Homo sapiens: one gene and its partners. The protein of the gene in region 4 purifies or fractionates together with the protein of the main gene of each other region. This does not show direct contact. Each region holds a gene or a part of one and is shown on either strand. Other genes may lie near its edges.

The links. The genes of interacting proteins can lie anywhere in the genome.
Region 1: the proteins of ADGRG2 (region 4) and CFAP69 purify together in Homo sapiens (affinity purification with mass spectrometry; one large-scale study listed by BioGRID and IntAct). This does not show direct contact.
Region 2: the proteins of ADGRG2 (region 4) and GPR89A purify together in Homo sapiens (affinity purification with mass spectrometry, with the first as the bait; one large-scale study listed by BioGRID). This does not show direct contact.
Region 3: the proteins of ADGRG2 (region 4) and GMIP purify together in Homo sapiens (affinity purification with mass spectrometry; one large-scale study listed by BioGRID and IntAct). This does not show direct contact.

Annotation. Positions count from the first base shown.
Region 1 is NC_000007.14:90,271,729-90,276,179, forward strand, and holds part of CFAP69 (cilia- and flagella-associated protein 69), read left to right. Parts: intron 1-52; coding exon 53-230; intron 231-2,258; coding exon 2,259-2,382; intron 2,383-4,451. UniProt on the Homo sapiens protein: Cilium- and flagellum-associated protein. In the olfactory epithelium, regulates the speed of activation and termination of the odor response and thus contributes to the robustness of olfactory transduction pathways.
Region 2 is NC_000001.11:145,617,043-145,621,493, forward strand, and holds part of GPR89A (Golgi pH regulator A), read left to right. Parts: intron 1-1,277; coding exon 1,278-1,381; intron 1,382-4,451. UniProt on the Homo sapiens protein: Voltage-gated channel that enables the transfer of anions such as iodide, chloride, bromide and fluoride which may function in counter-ion conductance and participates in Golgi acidification.
Region 3 is NC_000019.10:19,633,652-19,638,102, forward strand, and holds part of GMIP (GEM-interacting protein), read right to left. Parts: intron 4,407-4,451; coding exon 4,269-4,406; intron 3,911-4,268; coding exon 3,714-3,910; intron 3,379-3,713; coding exon 3,266-3,378; intron 3,146-3,265; coding exon 3,056-3,145; intron 2,071-3,055; coding exon 1,993-2,070; intron 1,919-1,992; coding exon 1,764-1,918; intron 1,563-1,763; coding exon 1,374-1,562; intron 1,279-1,373; coding exon 1,141-1,278; intron 1,053-1,140; coding exon 856-1,052; intron 540-855; coding exon 152-539; intron 1-151. UniProt on the Homo sapiens protein: Stimulates, in vitro and in vivo, the GTPase activity of RhoA.
Region 4 is NC_000023.11:18,990,271-18,994,493, forward strand, and holds part of ADGRG2 (adhesion G-protein coupled receptor G2 isoform 1 precursor), read right to left. Parts: intron 779-4,223; coding exon 594-778; 3' UTR 1-593. UniProt on the Homo sapiens protein: Adhesion G-protein coupled receptor (aGPCR) for steroid hormones, such as dehydroepiandrosterone (DHEA; also named 3beta-hydroxyandrost-5-en-17-one) and androstenedione.

The sequences.
Region 1 (4,451 bases), on a different chromosome or scaffold from region 4:
CTAAAAATGTCAATATTGTAAAGCACAAATAATTTTTAAAATTTATTTTCAGAAGTTAATTGTACTATAATGATGAAAGCACAAGCAGCCAGTGGAATCTGTACTCACCTCAATGACCCAGATCCCTCTGGACAGCTTTTATTTCGTTCATCAGAAATACTTTGGAACTTGCTGGAAAAATCTTCAAAAGAAGAAGTCATACAACAGCTTAGTAACTTGGAATGTTTGCTGTAAGCGTATGTGGTTAGATAGGAATGTTCTTTTAATCTTAAAATGACAGCCAGTGACATAACTAACATCTTTGTTTGAATCTGTGTTCAATTATGTTTTAGATTCATGTAATGGCTATGTTTCAGGACATCTTTTTTGTTCCATGGTATAAATGAATCTGCACAATAACAAGCCACACTTTTCTATGTGGAAGGCTCTTGAAGTAGCTTCTTAACACTAAAATATAACTTGGAATATAGATAAAGTAAAATTAGACTTTAGAAGAACTATTTCATTTATTTATCCAGTGAATCTATTATTGAGTGCTTACTATCTCCCAGATATTGCAGTAAGCATTAGCAACAAAATGTGCGTAAGCCTTCAAGTTGCTTCTTCACTTATTCAACAAATAATTGTCTGCTCTATGCCAGCTTCAGTATTAAGCCATAGAAATACCACTGAAAACAATATAGATATTGTCTCTGCTTTCGTGGAATTTACATTGTGCTAGGAGGGATGGACAAGTAAATAGACAACTAAAAGAGAACATACTAAATGTTATGAAACAGATTATTGTAAGATGCTACATGTTCTTCAGAAGAAGATCAGTCAGCACATTTTTGTTTGCAAGTGACTAAAAACCCAAATGACCAAAGCAATATAGAAAATTTATGGCTTATTTAACTACAAAGTCAAGGATAAAACTGGTTTCATGTGCAGCTTTATTCAGGGATCAGCAGATACTAGGACTTCGTCCCTCCTCTCTCTACATTGTCTTCCATGGTGCTGGCTTCACACCCAAGCCTATGTAGTAAGACCTAAGAAGTCTACGATCACATCATTTCAACCTCAAATCAAGCAGAAGAGAAACCTTGCTATCCTGAAGGCTCAGAGAAAAGTCTTTGAATTGAGTCCAGTTTGGCCCTGAATGGTCTAATATTGGTCAAATGCCTGTTCCACAGTGATTTATTAGTGCCAAAAGAAAAAATGCTCTGACTGGCGAAAAGGCAGCTGAAGGCAGCCTCACAGGAGCAAAAGTCAGGAAGGAGTAAATGCCTAAATAAAAATAAGAATGCTGTTCTTATAAAAAGGGCAAGTAGGTCCCAGGAGGCAAAGCAACAAATATCTACTATTAATACAAGGGAACCTAACTCAGAGTTGGAGAATTAATAACTGCTTCCTAATGAACTCAAGTCTAGTAACTGAATGACAAACAGGACTTGGTAACAGAAAAGTTTTGCATGCGGAGAGCATCCTAGACAGGGAAAACAAGTGAAAATATAATTAGCAAAATCAGAAAACTAAAATTCAGTATGATGAGAGCAGAAGGAACAGGCTACAATGGTGAGAGATGAGGCTAACAATGTTATCAGGGACCATAACATGAAAGGTCTAATAAGCCTTGTTAAGGAGGTAGGACTTAATCCTAAGAACAAAGAATAGTCTTTAAATGGTTTTACAAAGGAAAATGACATGATTGAATGTGTTATAGAGCTGTCACTTTGACCACCATGTGTAATAGACTGGTTTAGTGGATTCTTATCTGGTACATAGAGGATTAGAGGCAGATTTGGAAGTGTAAAAAATATTAGAAATATGTTCAAATGAATAGTATAATATAAAAAGGGAGATTTTGTTGATAGACATTCAGGAAGTATTTTCATAAAAGTGTGTGTTTTAGTTTGAGCTGCTATAATAAAGTACCGTAAACTGGGTGGTTTATAAACAACAGAAAGTTATTTTTCAGTTTGGGAGGCTAGAATTCTGATATCAGGGTGCCAGTGTGGTTGGGTTCTGATGAGGGTGCTCTTCTGGGTTGCATACTGCTGATCTCTTGTATTCTTACATGGAGGAAAGAGAGCAAGACAGCTCTCTGGAGTCCCTTTTATAAGGGCACTAATTCCATTCATGAGGGCTCATTACCTCCCTAAGGCCTCACTCCTAAAACCATCACATTGGGGGTTAGGATTTAAATATATGAATTTTGGAGGGACGCAAACATTTAGTGTATAACAATATAGTTTTTAAAATATGATTTTACTTTCTAGGGCTTTGAAGGAAGTATTTAAAAATCTGTTTATGAGAGGTTTCAGTCATTATGACCGTCAGCTTAGAAATGACATATTAGTGATCACTACAATTATAGCTCAAAATCCTGAAGCACCAATGATTGTAAGTATGAATCAAATTGCATTAATTTTAATTGTGGAAGTGGTGGGCTTGGGTGAAAGAAGTCCTATATTATGTTGGAATATTTGTGTATTTTCTTGTAATGCTAAGTTATGCTGTAATATCTTGATGGTCACCAGTGTGCTTATCACTCTGCCAATTCTTCTTTGCAATCCTTTGGAAATTTGGAATCTTCCTCATATTGTGTGATTTATACATGTATTTACCACTTATGATGCTTTTCTTTCCTTCCTGATGATTTGAGTTTCCATCTGGCATCATTTCTCTTTCACTGGAAGAACTTTGTTTACAATTTCTTGTGGTGCAAATCTACTGGCTGCTGGCAACAAGTTATCTTAGTTTTCTTTTATCTGAAAATATATTTAATTCATCTTAATTCTTAAAGTCTATGCTCATTGAATATAGAACTCTAGGCTGAAAAATGTTTTTGTTTAGCATTTCAAAGATAAAGTTCTGCTGTCTTATGGAGTCTGTTGTTTCTGATGAGAAATATTCATTGTGAGGTTCCATGGTGTAATGGTGAGCACCCTGGACTCTGATGAGAAGTATCCATTATTTCAAATCGTTATTCCCCTATGTATAATATATCATCCTTTTCTCTCACTGTTTTCAAGATTTTAACTCTATCTTTGGTTCCTAGCAGTTTCGAAATGATGTGCTAAGGTGAGATCTCCTTTGTATTTGTTCTGCTTAGGTTTCATAGAGCTTCTTGGATATATAAATTTAAGTCTTTGAGAAGATTTGGAGAACTCTTGGCCATTATTTCTTCAAATATTTTTTCAGCCCCATTCTCTCTCCCCACTTCTTCAGAGGCTCTGATTACTTTTATGTTTGACTTTTTGATATTGTCCCACAGGTTTGTGAGGCTCTGCTCACTTTTTTCAATCATTTTTCTCTCTATTCTTCAGGTTGGATAATTTGTATTAGTCTATATATTTAAATTCACTGACTTTTTTATTTCTGTCATCTCCATTCTGCTGTTAATCTCATCCAGTGCATTTTTACTTCAGATATATTTTTCAGTTTTAGAATTTATTTTTATTCCTTTTTATAGTGTCTCTCCTGAGAGTTCTTATCTTTCTATTCATTATGAGCATCTTTACTGTAGATTCTGGTATACTCCTCTGAAGAATTTTTAATAACTACATATTTAACTTAGCTGTACTCATCCCTTTTTGAGGTATGGCAGCCCAAATCTTAATTCAGTTCTTGCCTGGGATGCTTGAGTATTCTCTGCACTTGTGTGGTTCAGCTATCAGCCAGATATTTGGGAAGAGTTTGTACACAGAATTTAGCATTCTCTCTCTCTGGCTCTCTCCTTTATGGGATTTCTCCCTTCACTTTCCAATGGCTGTGGTTGCCTCTGCCCTCTGGTTCTTCAGGCCACTAAGACCACAGGGTTACTCTGAGTTTTAGCATTTCCACGAGGTGTAGAATACGGCCTGCTCTCAGGCCAAAAGCCTTTTTTTTTTTTTTTTTTTTTTTTTTTTTGAGACGGAATCTTGCTCTGTCGCCCAGGCCGGAGTGCAGTGGCGCGATCTCAGCTCACTGCAAGCTCCGCCTCCCGGGTTTGCGCCATTCTCCTGCCTCAGTCTCCTGAGTAGCTGGGACTACAGGCACCCGCCACCACACCCGGCTAATTTTTTCGTATTTTTAGTAGAGACAGGGTTTCACTGTGTTAGCCAGGATGGTCTCGATCTCCTGACCTCAGGATCTGCCCGCCTTGGCCTCCCAAAGTGCTGGGATTACAGGCGTGAGCCACCGCGCCCGGCCCCAAAAGCCTTTTTTAAAATGGGAAACTCGTGTAGTGCCATTCCCTTCTACAAAATTCTGACATCCTTCCAGTGTCTGCTTACTCTTGGTCACAAGATAGTTTTATTTGTCACCAGCAGGAGAATTTCTCTCGGAGCTACTACTCATCTGTACCAGAAGCTGAGCCTTCACATATTTTATAATTAAAAATCATTGAATGATTGAAATTATTTAATAGAGATCCTTGGCAACAATATTCACAAGTCAGTCACGTAAGTTCTAGTTGTGCTACAAAGAAC
Region 2 (4,451 bases), on a different chromosome or scaffold from region 4:
CAGTCTGACTAGAATTTACCAGGCTGGAATTTCCCAATCCTAGTAAGTCTGAGGGCACTGTAGGAGACCAGGGTGTATTTTAGTCCTATCTCAACCGCATAAGACAGACACTCCCAGAGCGGCCATTCATAGACCTCTCTCCCAGAATGCATTCCTTCCCCAGGGTTATTCCTTGCTGGAAAAAGAATTCAGCAGTATTTCTCCTACTCGCTTTCTGCAAGAAGAAGAGTATGACTCTATTCTGCCCAACCCCGCAAGCAGTCAGACCTTATGGTTATCTTTCCGTGTTCCCTGAAAATTGCTGTTATTCTGTTCTTTTTCAGGGTGCACTAATTTCATATTGTTCAAACACACATGTTTTTCAAACAATTTGTACAGTTAACGCAATCATCACAGGGTACTGAGGTGACATACATCCTCAGTTTACAAAGATGACGGGATTAAGAGATTAAAGTAAGACAGTCATAAGAAATTTAAAAAGTATTAATTTGGGGAACTAATAAATGTCCATGAAATCTTCACAATTTATGTTCAGAGATTGCAGTAAAGACAGGTGTAAGAAATTATAAAAGTATTAATTTTGGGAACTAATAAATGTCCATGAAACAATTTATGTTCTTCTGCTGCGGCTTCAGCCAGTCCCTCCATTCGGGGTCCCTGACTTCCCGCAACACAAGGCTGGTGTTGTTTTTATCTTAAGCTTTGGATTCAGAAGATCACCACCCTAGACTCGACATTTCCTAGTTAGTTCTCCTAATTAGTAATAAGATCAGTGGTTATAGTCTACATTTGGGTCATTTCTAGGATATTCTCCATTAAACTTTCCCAGGGAGTTTATTGTCTGAAAGAGCCTGGGATTCTGGAGATTTTCTTCTGCCCAATACTTTAAGACCTCCCGAGGAAGGTTCCAGAACTGATCCAGGATCTGCAGAGTGTTGAAGAACCCCTTTAAACATTAACCATTATGTACGAATCTGTCAGTTTTTTGTCAGTATGCATCAGGAATTCTAAGTGCTACCTATGACCCTGTCACTTCATCTTCTTGTCCTCAAAATTCTTCATCCACAGGAGGATGCTGGTAATAGTGACTCAAGATTCAGAAGTGCCACCTATATTGATCTTTTTCTTTAGCTCCAGGCAAGTTGCTGTTGTGGCCCTACTTCCAATGACTTGAGAATTTCCTCAAAATAAGTTTTCTGACTTGTAACCAGAAGGAGGTTATCAGTTCAGTTTTTAAACAAGGAAATAACTTCTAGTCTCTGTTTGGCTTTTAACAGATACGTCAGTATGTTGTACAGGTGATCTTCTCCGTGACGTTTGCATTTTCTTGCACCATGTTTGAGCTCATCATCTTTGAAATCTTAGGAGTATTGAATAGCAGGTGAGTAAGAGTACTGAAAACTCCTCTTGAAGAGTTCTGTGCTACATTCTTTACAGTGGAAAAGCTATTGGATCTCATAACTGAAAAAAAAAACACTGTGTTAATAGTTCAGTTTCAGTAACTGCAATGATCACAACAGATATGGGTCACAGCCACCTAATAGCTGGTTTGATAAAGATTATGAGATACCAGGAAACAAAAGATCTGACCGTTAACTCTGAAGAACTCATTGGAGTGAGGCTGTGAAGCTGCAGTCTAGGCTTCACTCCTAGAAGCTTTATTTTTCCAGGACTGCTCGCTGACTGAATCCCAGTAACAGCCCTTCACATTGTTCTGCTGATTGAAAATCTCTACCTGAAAAGATTAGAATTCCTCAGAGCTACTTTAATGATCTCTCTGAAGACTGAAACTCCAGTTCTTACTTAACTTAGTTATTTTTATTGATTTTACAGTCATGGTCAAGTTTGGTTGAATTTAAAGTGTTTCTTAAAACACTTTTTAAAAATAACTCTTTACTCCCCTCCAAATAATAGACTTGTTAGTTTATTAGACAGTCTATTCAAAATATTTCTTGCTTGTTAATCTGCAAGCTTGAGTATGTTTTTAGGCCAGCATTTATATGTAGGGTTCATCAACTATGCTATGCAGACTTTGTTGTGCTTTTTTATCACCACCTGGAAAAACCTTTTAGGAGTAAAGCAGTCTTTCACTCTAAAGTTAGGATTCAGTGCCAAGGTAAGTTCATTATAGACCCCTGGCACTTGAGACTTGTAGAGAGACTATACTCTCAAATCCTTTGATAATCAGAGTTGAAAACGAAATTTAAATTAAAAAGAAAAACTTACTATACAGATGGTTAATCACAAAACATTGAAAGGTTAAAAAAAAAAAAAGAAGAGAGAGGGGCCAGACATAGTGGCTCACGCCTATAATCCTAGCACTTTGGGAGGCTGAGGCAGGAGGATCACTTAAGTGCAGGGGTTCAAGACGAGCCTGGGCAACAAAGTGAGACCCTGTCTCTACAAAAAAATAAAAAAAATTAGCAGAGTGTGGTAGTACACGTCTGTAGTGCCAGCTACCCTGGAGGCTGAAGCAGGAGGATCCCTTGAGCCCAGGAGTTTGAGGATATGCAGTGAGCTGTGATCACTGGACAAGACAATGAGACCCCATCTCTTAAAAAAAAGAGTGAGAGAGAGAGAATCAGAGTTGATAATAATGGTCTCTTGATAGAACAATGAATAACATGTATTATGGTAAAATAGAAGTGTTTTCTGATTCTCCTGCTTTTAAACTTTAATAATCCAAACCTTGGCCGGGCACGGTGGCTCACGCCTGTAATCCCAGCACTTTGGGAGGCCAAGGCAGGCGGATCACGAGGTCAGGAGATCAAGACCATCCTGGCTAACATGGTGAAACCCCGTCTCTACTAAAAATACAAAAAATTAGCTGGGCGTGGTGGTGGGCGCCTGTAGTCCCAGCTACTTGGGGGGCTGAGGCAGGAGAATGGCCTGAACCCAGGAGGCAGAGCTTGCAGTGAGCCGAGATTGTGCCACTGCACTCCAGCCTGGGCGACAGAGCAAGACTCCATCTCAAAAAAATAAATAAATAAAAAATAATCCAAACCTTTTCTTGGATGAGCTAGATATAGATCCTGTGACTATAGAGAATAGACAGGTATTATTTTACATAATGGTTATTAAATTTTATTATCACAACCTGCATCTTTCACTGCTATTTAAGCAGGGGTTGGCAGGCTTTCTTCTGTAAAGGGCCAGATAATAAATATTTTAGGTTTCTGTGGACCAGAAGGTTTCTATCACAAGTACTCAGCTCTGCTGTTGTAGAGAGAAAACAGTCATAGGCAATATATAAACAAACGAGCATGGCCATGCTCCAATAAACTTAATTTGTAAAAGCAGGTGGCTGTGAGGCCATAGTTTGCCAGCTACTCATCTAAATATTGATACAGAGGATTCAGATATTCTAAAGCTATATTTACTGTTTTTGGTAGATGATGTCCCCCAACTTTTAACTTATAGTTAATAACCCGTATAGTAAGAAACATCTGTCATACTATGGTGTATGTTTCCTAAATTTCTTAATTAGTTAAAGAGGATAAGAAGTAGCATTGCTAAAATCTGGTTTTTCTTTGTGTGCTATATAGAGGATTGGGTCTGAGACATATCTTCAGTTATACCTGTTTTTTCATGCTAATGTTTCACCCAATTATGGAACACAAATATGAACCTTGATGATGTATAACTGTCCATTGACTGGACTCAGAATCGTTTTGAAAAGAGAATCTTGGCCAGAATATTCCTTTGACTCACCTTTGAGCAGAGATCATATGACTTCCTATTCAAATATGTAATCTTGTTGGGATGCTTAGTTTTTTCAAGAGAATATCACTTTACTCTCAGCTCAAAAGACTAGTTAAAACATGTGGTTCACTTTTAATAGGCAGTCCATACTGCCAATTAAAGTTGCACTTGTTATTTCAAACCCACTGCTTCCCAAAATCTTTCAGAAGCTTAGCTGAAATACTATGTAGTATTGCCTGGAGGATGTCCAGCTTGTTTCTTTCTCTAAATGTTCTAAAGTAGTTGTTAACCTAGAGGAGCAAAAAGCTGTCAATGTATCTAGTCTAAATGGTATTCACTCCCTGTAGGGTAGCTTTTACTGAATGGCTCTTTGTTTCGTGATGCCTGCCATCTGTACTAAGGAAGGAACAATAAGAAACAGCCCTCTGAAACATATTTCTCTTGAAAGGATGTTGTTGATGACACTGTTAATTGCCTTTGCATTTTCTTTATGAAATCTTTGAAGAAATTTCATTGTAATCTTGTTAATAATTCAGTAACAATAAATGATAATTATGCTTCCTTTGAGGAATTAATTTTTATTTTCTTACAGACATGATGATTTTATCTAACTGATCAAATTTTTTATTTCACATTGACCATTAGAAAACTTAAAGCTAAATTTATGACCTACCCATAGCAACTTTCTAGAATTCTGTTTTATAATAGCCATCAGGCTTGGCCCAATATTTTACCTGTTACCATTGTTG
Region 3 (4,451 bases), on a different chromosome or scaffold from region 4:
CACTATTCCTTCCAGAATGAACATAAGTTAAATGAGGAAGGGAGGAAGAGAATGAAGGAAATTTTAAAAAGGAAGGAAGGTGAAAGAGAAGGTAAGAGAATTGAACAGAGATAAGGCCCTCTCCATAGCTGTGGGCCCAGTGGGTTCTTACCTCGGTAGGTGTGGCCGTGGGATGCTGCTCCAGGGTACTGTGGTGCTGGGGGTCTGGGCCGGGGTCTGAGGCTAGGACTGGGGGCTGGGAGTCTGGGTCAAGGTGCGGGGGTGGCGGTTGGGAGCTGGTTGTGAGGGGCCCAGGGGCTGGGCTGGAGTCTTGGGGCGGGGGCTCAGTGGCCTGGGGGAGCTCATCCATCCCAAAGATCTGCTCGTAGTGCACGATGAGGAACTCCACAAGCTGGGCCTGATGCCCAGAGTCCAGCAGGCAGGTGACAGGGATGGCGCTGGCTGCCCGCGGGCCGTCCGGCGGCCGCAGCAGTGTCGGCCCAAACACAATGCCCAGGTTGTTGGCAGACATCTTGTTTTCCATAAATCGTGCAGCCACCCTGGGGATGGTGTGAAGAGAAAGGTCAGGGTACAGGATGCAAGCTCATTGGTCTGAGGGTAAGGGTGGGACACGCAGGCCAGCCTAGAGGTGACTTGCCCATGTCACAGGTGTAAGTCGTCTGAGACCAGCAGCCACATATCCAGAACTGGAGGTCAGGGGTCAGTACCCAAAGTTATGAATCATGGATTAAGGTTCAGAGTTCAGAAAACACAGGTCAAAGGTCAGAGGTCAGTGTCAGGGGTCAGCCAGGGAAGTTAGTAGTCGCATGTCCAGGGAAAAGGGTCGCGTTTCAAGGCTCAGGGACCCATGCACACCTGAACAGATGGGCCACCAGGTGCCGCAGGGTGTTGTAGTTAGAGTCAGGCAGCTGTACCAAGAGGGTCTTCAGCGAGCGGATAACCTCAGGGCTGGGGCTGGGGGTCCCAGGGTCGTCCCCAGGGTCTGCATGCAAGGTCTTAGCCAGAGAGATGAAGGCGTCGTAGAGGTGGAAGGGGATCACGGGCTCGGTGAGCTGGGGGTGGAACGGAGGGCGCAACACGAGTGTGGGTGGGCTGTGGAGGGCTCCTGCCCGCGTCCCCCTCAGTGTCCTGAGCACCAACCTCCTGAAGAAATCGCTTGAGGACACTCGAGACGTCATGAGGCGAGTTCCCCGACAGCTCCACCAACGCTCGGCCATTCTCGAAAGCCTGGCACAGCCGCTCCACACGGACCCGGGACCCGCTGACCCGGTAAATGCCCTGCAGGGTGAGGGTGAAAAACAGACACCTGGTTCGTGATAGGCCATCGATTCGGTCAGGTCACTTCTGGGGATGATGAAGGGTCAGGGCAGCACCTGCACATCCAGGGCACGGTGTTCTATCTCAGCCGTGCACTTCGTGACCACAAAGGGTACCTCCTCCGGGAAGTCCCTGGGTAGCTGCAGGAAGTCAACCCCAAAAAGGGGTGTCCGGGCTGGGAGCCGCCTGTGTCCACAGAGGATCAGGAGAGTCTCCAGGCAGCGCTTGTGGCAGGTCAGAAAGCACTGTGGGGAAGGTCACAGGGACAGGGAGGTCATTAGGGACCAGTAGGGGAAGAGAAGGTTACAAGGATCCTCAAGGAATGGGGGCTCATGGGAGACATCAGGTTAGGGTGGGTCCCAGGGGCAGAAAGGCTGTAGGAATCTCAGGTCAGGGAGATGATCAAGGGTCAGCAAAGGTCATTTGGTCATTAACCCAGGCCACACCTCCTCACACTCCGTCCCGCTGACCATGAAGGCTTCGCACTCGCGGCACTTGGCTGGGCCCCGCAGTCGCCGCAGCTGGTGGGTCTGAGCCGCGCTGGACAGTGTCCACTTCCCGAAGGGGCTGCCCAGCCCATTCTCCAGCCCGTCTCCCAGGTCTGCAGGGAGACAGGGTCAGGAGTGCCTGGTGCCCTGCCCTGTCCCATCCTGACCTACCCTGCTTCAGCCTCACCAGGGTCTCGCTCCTCAAAGTCATCTGAGGACTCAGTGCCTGTGGACGAAGCCTTCACCAGCTGCCTCGTGCCAGCGCCTGGGGTCAGAGGAATCATGGGAGATTCCTGGGCTATGGGAGGCACTCCTGGTTTTTAGGGCTTCCAGAACCACCCACTAATTCCCAAGGGGTCAGAGGTCAGGAGGGGGATTGGACAGGTCAGTGGTTAAGGGTTGGAGAATTGGGTCAGCAACCTGAGGGGGGTGGTTCATAAGCTGGATCAAGAGGTTGAGGAAATAGGCCGGGCGCAGTGGCTCACACCTGTAATCCCAGCACTTTGGGAAGCTGAGGCAGGAGGATCACATGAGGCAAGGAGTTTGACACCAGCCTGGCCAACATGGCAAAACCTTGTCTCTACTAAAAATACAAACATTAACCAGGCATGGTGGCAGGCACCTGTAGTCCCAGCTACTCGGGAGGCTGAGGCACGAGAATCGCTTGAACCTGGGAGGCGGAGGTTGCAGTGAGCCAAGATCGTACCACTGCGCTCCAGCCTGGGCAACAGAGCAAGACTCTGTCTCAAAAAAAAAAAAAAGAAAGAAAGAAAAGAAAAGAAAAGGCCGGGCGTGGTGGCACACACCTGTAATCCCTGCACTTTGGGAGACCGAGGCAGGTGGATCACCTGAGGTCAGGAGTTCGAGATCAGCCTGGCCAACATGGTGAAACCCCGTCTCTACTAAAAAATACAAAAATCAGCCGGCGTGGTAGTGCACACCTGTAATCCCAGCTACTCCAGAGGCTGAGACAGGAGAATCGCTTGAATCTGGGAGGTGGAGGTTGCAGTGAGCCGAGATCACGCCACTGCACTCCAGGCTGGGCGACAGAATGAGACTGTCTCAAATAAACAAACAAATAAATAAATAAATAATTTTTAAAAAGGTAAAAAAAGAGGTTGAGGAAATAGGTCAGGGGTGTGGGGTAGGTCAGAGGTCAAAGATAGTTAAAGATTGAGGGTCAGAGCTTGGCCAGGGGCTGGAGGATGGTCACAGGTGGAGTGTGGGTCAGGACCAGGTCCTATCCCTACCTGGGCTGGAAGTGGGTGAGTCCAGGGACCGAGACTCGCTGCCGCCACCCACGCTGTCCACATCGCTGCCCGGAGTGGGGCCTGGAGTCCCTAGGTGGCACAGGTCAATAAGGATGGTCCCCTGCTCACAAACCCCACTCCTGCAGCCCACCTATGTGTTGGTGGAACGAACTCCTGGCACCACTCCCACCTGGCCCTCATTGCACTCACCTTGCCAGCGCCAGCCTGTGCCCGGATCCTCCCAAGGGCCTGGCTCAGCTGAATTCTCATCCAGCCTTGGAGGAAGAGGCCCAGAGAGCTTCTTTCTGATGTCCAGAGGGGAGCTGAGAAGACAGAAGTTTGAAGGTTTGAATCCCAGGAAACTGGCCTGGGGTGATGGCACCCAGGCATCATGTCTAGGTACCAACTCCAAGCACTTGGGTCTGCAAACCCTGACACCCAGGGCATTGTGGCCCCTGAAATACAGTAGCCCCACATTCCTGCCCCTGCCCCTAGGACTGGGACAACCCATTCACCCTCCTATGGCCCCCGAGAGCCTGGAGTACTAAATTCCACTAAGGCTTTGCGTTCTCTAACCTCGAGTAACCAGCCTGCGGTGCCAACAGCCTGGCATCGCGATTCCGGGGCTCGTTCCCGACTCCCTGCTCCAGTGACCCACCTGTTCAAGGAGGGAAGGAACTCCTGGAAGGAGAAGGCGGGCGGCGGGGGCGGCGGGGCCTCGGGCCGCAGCGCCCGTACAAACTCCTGGTAGCGCTGGCCCGGCTCAAAGGGCGCACAGCACTCGGCCAGGGCGGCGAAGGCGCGGGGGCCACGCTCTGCCTGCGCCCCCCGCAGCCCGAAGAGACTCAGCGTCACCTGCCGGGTGGAGACAGCAGGTTGGGGAGGGGCGGAGCCTGGGAGCCTGGGGGCAGGGCCAGAGCTGGGGCGGGGCTTGAGAGACGCGAACGTGGTCAGGGTTTGGGACGCACCTGGGCGGCTTAGGAACTAGGGCAGTCGGCCAGGGGACCCAGGCATGGTCAGAGCAGGGGCTGGTCATCCAGGGGACAGGACCTCATGGGGCGGAGCCGAGACAGTGGGTCTGGGGGCGGGAACTGGCTGTCGAGGGAAATGGCCTAGTCCTGGTGTCTCCAGGGTGGCTTAGGGGCGAGGAGTGGGGCACTCAGTCGGGGCCCCAACGGGGTGAGGGGAGGATGGCCTTGGGGATGGGCCTCACCCGCCTCAGCACTTCATCCCCCTGAAACACCAGCTTGCGCACGTGCGACACGATTCGCTGCTTGGCGATCTCCAGGTCCTGCTGCCGCGCGTTGGCCTCGCGGACACAGGCCTGGTACAGCGCCTCGGCCTCCTGCGCCTGGGGAAACGGGAGGCCAGGAGCGGGGTGGGGCGCGTGTGGGCG
Region 4 (4,223 bases):
GTTTCTGTATTTCACATCCTATATCATCTCCAAAAGGAGCTTTAGGATTTGCGGAACGAGCAAGGATTTTCTGAATTATCACGTGAGACAAAACAACCATGATTCTACAAAGGAATACATTTACACAGTAGAAAATAAATACAAAAAAATGTAGAAGTAAGATTTTTGACACATGGGTCACTAGAATTTAGCTTATATACAACAAAGGCATGCACAACTAAACTCACCAACAGGCTGAAGTCAACAGTTGCTTTATATGATGTTATCAAAGATAACTTAGCCTCTTTAAAAGGTAGCTGAAAGTTCACTACCTTTTTTTGTTTTCTTTATAGGAGTCATTCTTAGTGTATTGTTTAAAACCAACCTTCTTATAAAATGAAAGATAAGAAACCAAATCAGAAATGTCTAAAAACCATGGTGTAATGTCTTGGTTTCTTCTTGTAATAATAATCATCGCCCTTAATTAGCTTATGCTTCTCCAGATGTTGCCGAGAATAAAATGAGTTGATTTTCATACATCTCACATTGTGTAAAAGGTAAAATTGGACATTTCACACTGTCAAGCATCATGCTTTGATTTTAGAAGAAAGGAATCACATTTGCTCAATAAAGTGTAAGCTTCCCCGCTTTGAAGTCCTTCTGAGAGCCATACGGCCTTTCCCATTGCAGGAATCTTCCTTCTCGTTAAACATGTGCTGTTTTCCAGTGAAATCGTGAAGGCACACATCTCCATTCTGAACACTAAAAGAGACCCCATTCCTCTCTGTAGAAGCATTTCCTGTATAAGGAAACACAAAGCGGGTGGCATGAAGTATCCACAGAAAGCATTAAAAAGCAAACAAACTTAGACATTGCTTTATTCTTAAAGATGTATTTGTAAAATATGTTTTTAAAAACATTTGTGATATATGTTCATATTTTATTTATTTTTCATTACTTCCCTAAGGCCACTCAAAGTAAGCATACCAAAGTGGAGATTGCTTCAGAAACCAGTTCTCTATGGCAGTTTTTTTTTTGTTTGGTTTTTAATGAAACAGTCAAAATCTGAAGCAAGGTAATATATTAATAAAAGGCCCACTTCCTAACTCTGGTTGGATATGTTTTGACTTCAAGTAGCAGCATATGTATAATATAAGCTAAGGTAATACTTTGGTCTCCCAAAAGGTTAATGTTAACAGAGATCCCCATATGTACCCTTAGGAAGTTCTTGGTTCCCTAGGTTCCTATAAAATGAAACTTTGTACCAGAGAAACCAGAGCAACCAGCTACAACAGTCATGGCAAGAAGAAATCATCTCTCTTGTAGATTAAACCAGCTCCTCTGACTAAATCAGGACAGGACAAATTCCCAAGAGGAAACTACCAATTCCAACTTCAGAGTCCAGGCCAGGGAGCAGCTGGGCACTCAAGGGTAACTGTTGGTTTGGACGTGGGCCTTCCCCACCCCAAGCAGGCCCTGAGTTATAGGGGAGCACAGGTGCTGGCCTCCTCTAGTTACTTGGCACCATCCTTCTGATCATTAGACCATTGGGAGACTATACACAAAGCTGAATAATAAGCCCATTTGATAGTTCATGACATGATTATGATAACAATGATCATAACAGTACTGGGACACTTTATTATCTCATTTAGAGCCCTGCAGGGTGGGTACTACTGTTATCCCCATTTTGCAGATGAGGAAACGAAGGTTTCAGAAATTAAGTGCTCTCCCCAAGGTCACACAGCTCAGAAGTAATGGAGTTGACGTGTGATGTTGCTTCCAAACTGTGATCCTTGTGGTCCTGGGTACCAAATGAGATGGCTGCTGGTACCCCACCCTCTAAGGCAGCTCAGAACTGAACTGTGTAATATTCATGCAAACTAGGTGATGAATATGGTTAACGTAGCTCCATCTGTGACACAGATCAAATAGGGCATGTGACTGTCTGAGGCAGCTGTTTGGATTTAGGCATTTCGGCTTGAGGACATTTTGGTGCAAGAACAATTTGGTCTGGCATAATAAATCATTAAACTTCTAGCTTTTTTTGTTGTTGTTGAGACGGAGTCTCGTTCTGTCGCCCATGCTGGAGTGCAGTGGTGAGATCTAGGCTCACTGCAACTTCTGTCTCCTGGGTTCAAGCGATTCTCCTGCCTCAGCTTCCTGAGTAGCTGGGACTACAGGTGTGTGCCACCACGTCTGGTTGATTTTCACATTTTTTATTAGAGATGGAGTTTTTCCATGTTGGCCAGGCTGGTCTTGAACTCCTGACCTCAGGTGATCCTCCTAACTTAGCCTCCCAAAGTGCTGGGATTACAGGTGTGAGCCACTGCGCCCAGCCCTAGCTTTCTTTTTTGAAATTGCCAATTCCATTCCTCATCTATCCCAGATGCTGGGGCAAGGACTGAGGAGTCAGGAATGGTTATCTGACATGCATATTATGTGATATTAAACACTGAGCCATTTTGGCAGCCTTAAAATGTACCCCCATCCTCACCGTCAAGCATCAAAAGTAGCTGTGTCAAATCAGCTGTGTTAAACAACTGTGGTAAAATGTGCTGTTTCCATGAAATCTGATTTCCCAAAGGATGACAACATGTTGATAGAGCTAGGCAGGTGAGGCTTCATCTCTGAGCTCTTTCGAGAATATGGACAAATCTGGTTTATGGATTCAGAGCCCCAGATGACCCTGCTCGCTCCTTTGATGTCTCTCCTTTCAATTTGCTTTCTCACACTAACGTACTAACCAGCTGTGCTCCCCGCTGCCTCGCCTCTGTTTACCTACATTGAATCATTCCTGATAGAGCTATTTGGTGTAGAGCCCAGAGCTTGCTTTCTGGTATCGACAGTAAAGAGCTAAGGCTATACAACAGTTATTTCTCATCTTTTACAGCAGTGATTCTCAACTGGGGGCAATCTTGCTCCCTTCTTCTCCCCGCTCCCCTGGGACAGTTGGCAGTGTCTGGGGACATTTTGGGTTGTCATAACTGGGGGCAGGGTGCTACTGGCTCTAGTTGATAGAGTCCAGGGATCCTGCTAAATGTCCTGCAATTCCACAAAAAAGAATTATCCAGCCCCAAAATGTCAATTGTGCTTGAAGTTGAGAAACCTTGATTTTGAGGCATCCTATGGTATTTTAAAAGCCTAGACAGGCCGGGCACAGTGGCTCACACCTGTAATCCCAGCACTTTGGGAGGCTGAGGCGGGAGGATCACTTGAGCCCAGGAGTTTGAGACCAACCTGGACAACACAGCAAGACTGCATCTTAAAAAAAAAAAAAAATTAGCCAGCCATGGTGGCATGCTCCTACAGTCCCAGCTACTCGGGTGGCTGAGGTGGGAGGATCACTTGAGCCTGGGAGGTCGAGGCTGCAGTGAACCGTGATCATACCACTGAACTCCAGCCTGGGCAATAGGAGACCTTGTCATAAAAAAAAAGAAAAAAAAAAAAAAAAGTCTAGACACACCAGCAGGACTGCCCATCTTCAGGAAACGGGAAAACTGGTAGATGTATGAACCTTCTCACAAATTTATTTGAGTTAGTCATGAAAAGAACTAACATCCTAAAACAATGAATACAGGCAAATTCTCCATGGAAGGAGAAACTATACCAGCAGAGCTTATGTTTTTATAAGAATGCAAAAGATATATTAAGAAGCAAGAGAAGGTAAAAATAGATAAGGTAAGCTTTTATGAGTAATGAACAGCCTGGTCTTATGAAAGAAAGAAAATGTAACAGAAGTTTTAGCTAGAAATGTCAGAATTAATGAGTAAAGGAGGCATGGCAGCAATAATCTGTTCAGATATTGGTCACATATATGGTCACCAATACTGGTCACAAGTCATCTTCCAGTATTTTGACATATTCATGGGGATTTGGGTGCTGTCACAAGACAGCCACATTGTGGGAAAGAATTAACAAACATGAAAAGCAAAAAATAGGAAGGTTTAAAAGTGTTGGCTGGGCGCGGTGGCTCACACCTGTAATCCCAGCACTTTGGGAGGCCGAGGTGGGCAAATCACTTGTGGTCAGGAGCTCGAGACTAGCCTGGCCAACATGGTGAAACCTGTCTCTACTAAAAATACAAAAATTAGCTGGGCATCGTGGCGGTCACCTGTAGGTCACCTGTAATTCCAGCTACTCGGGAGGCTGAGGCAGAATTGCTGGAACCCAGGAGGTGGAGGTTGCAGTGAGCTGAGATTGCACCATTGCACTCCAGCCTGGGCAACAAGAGTGAGACTCCA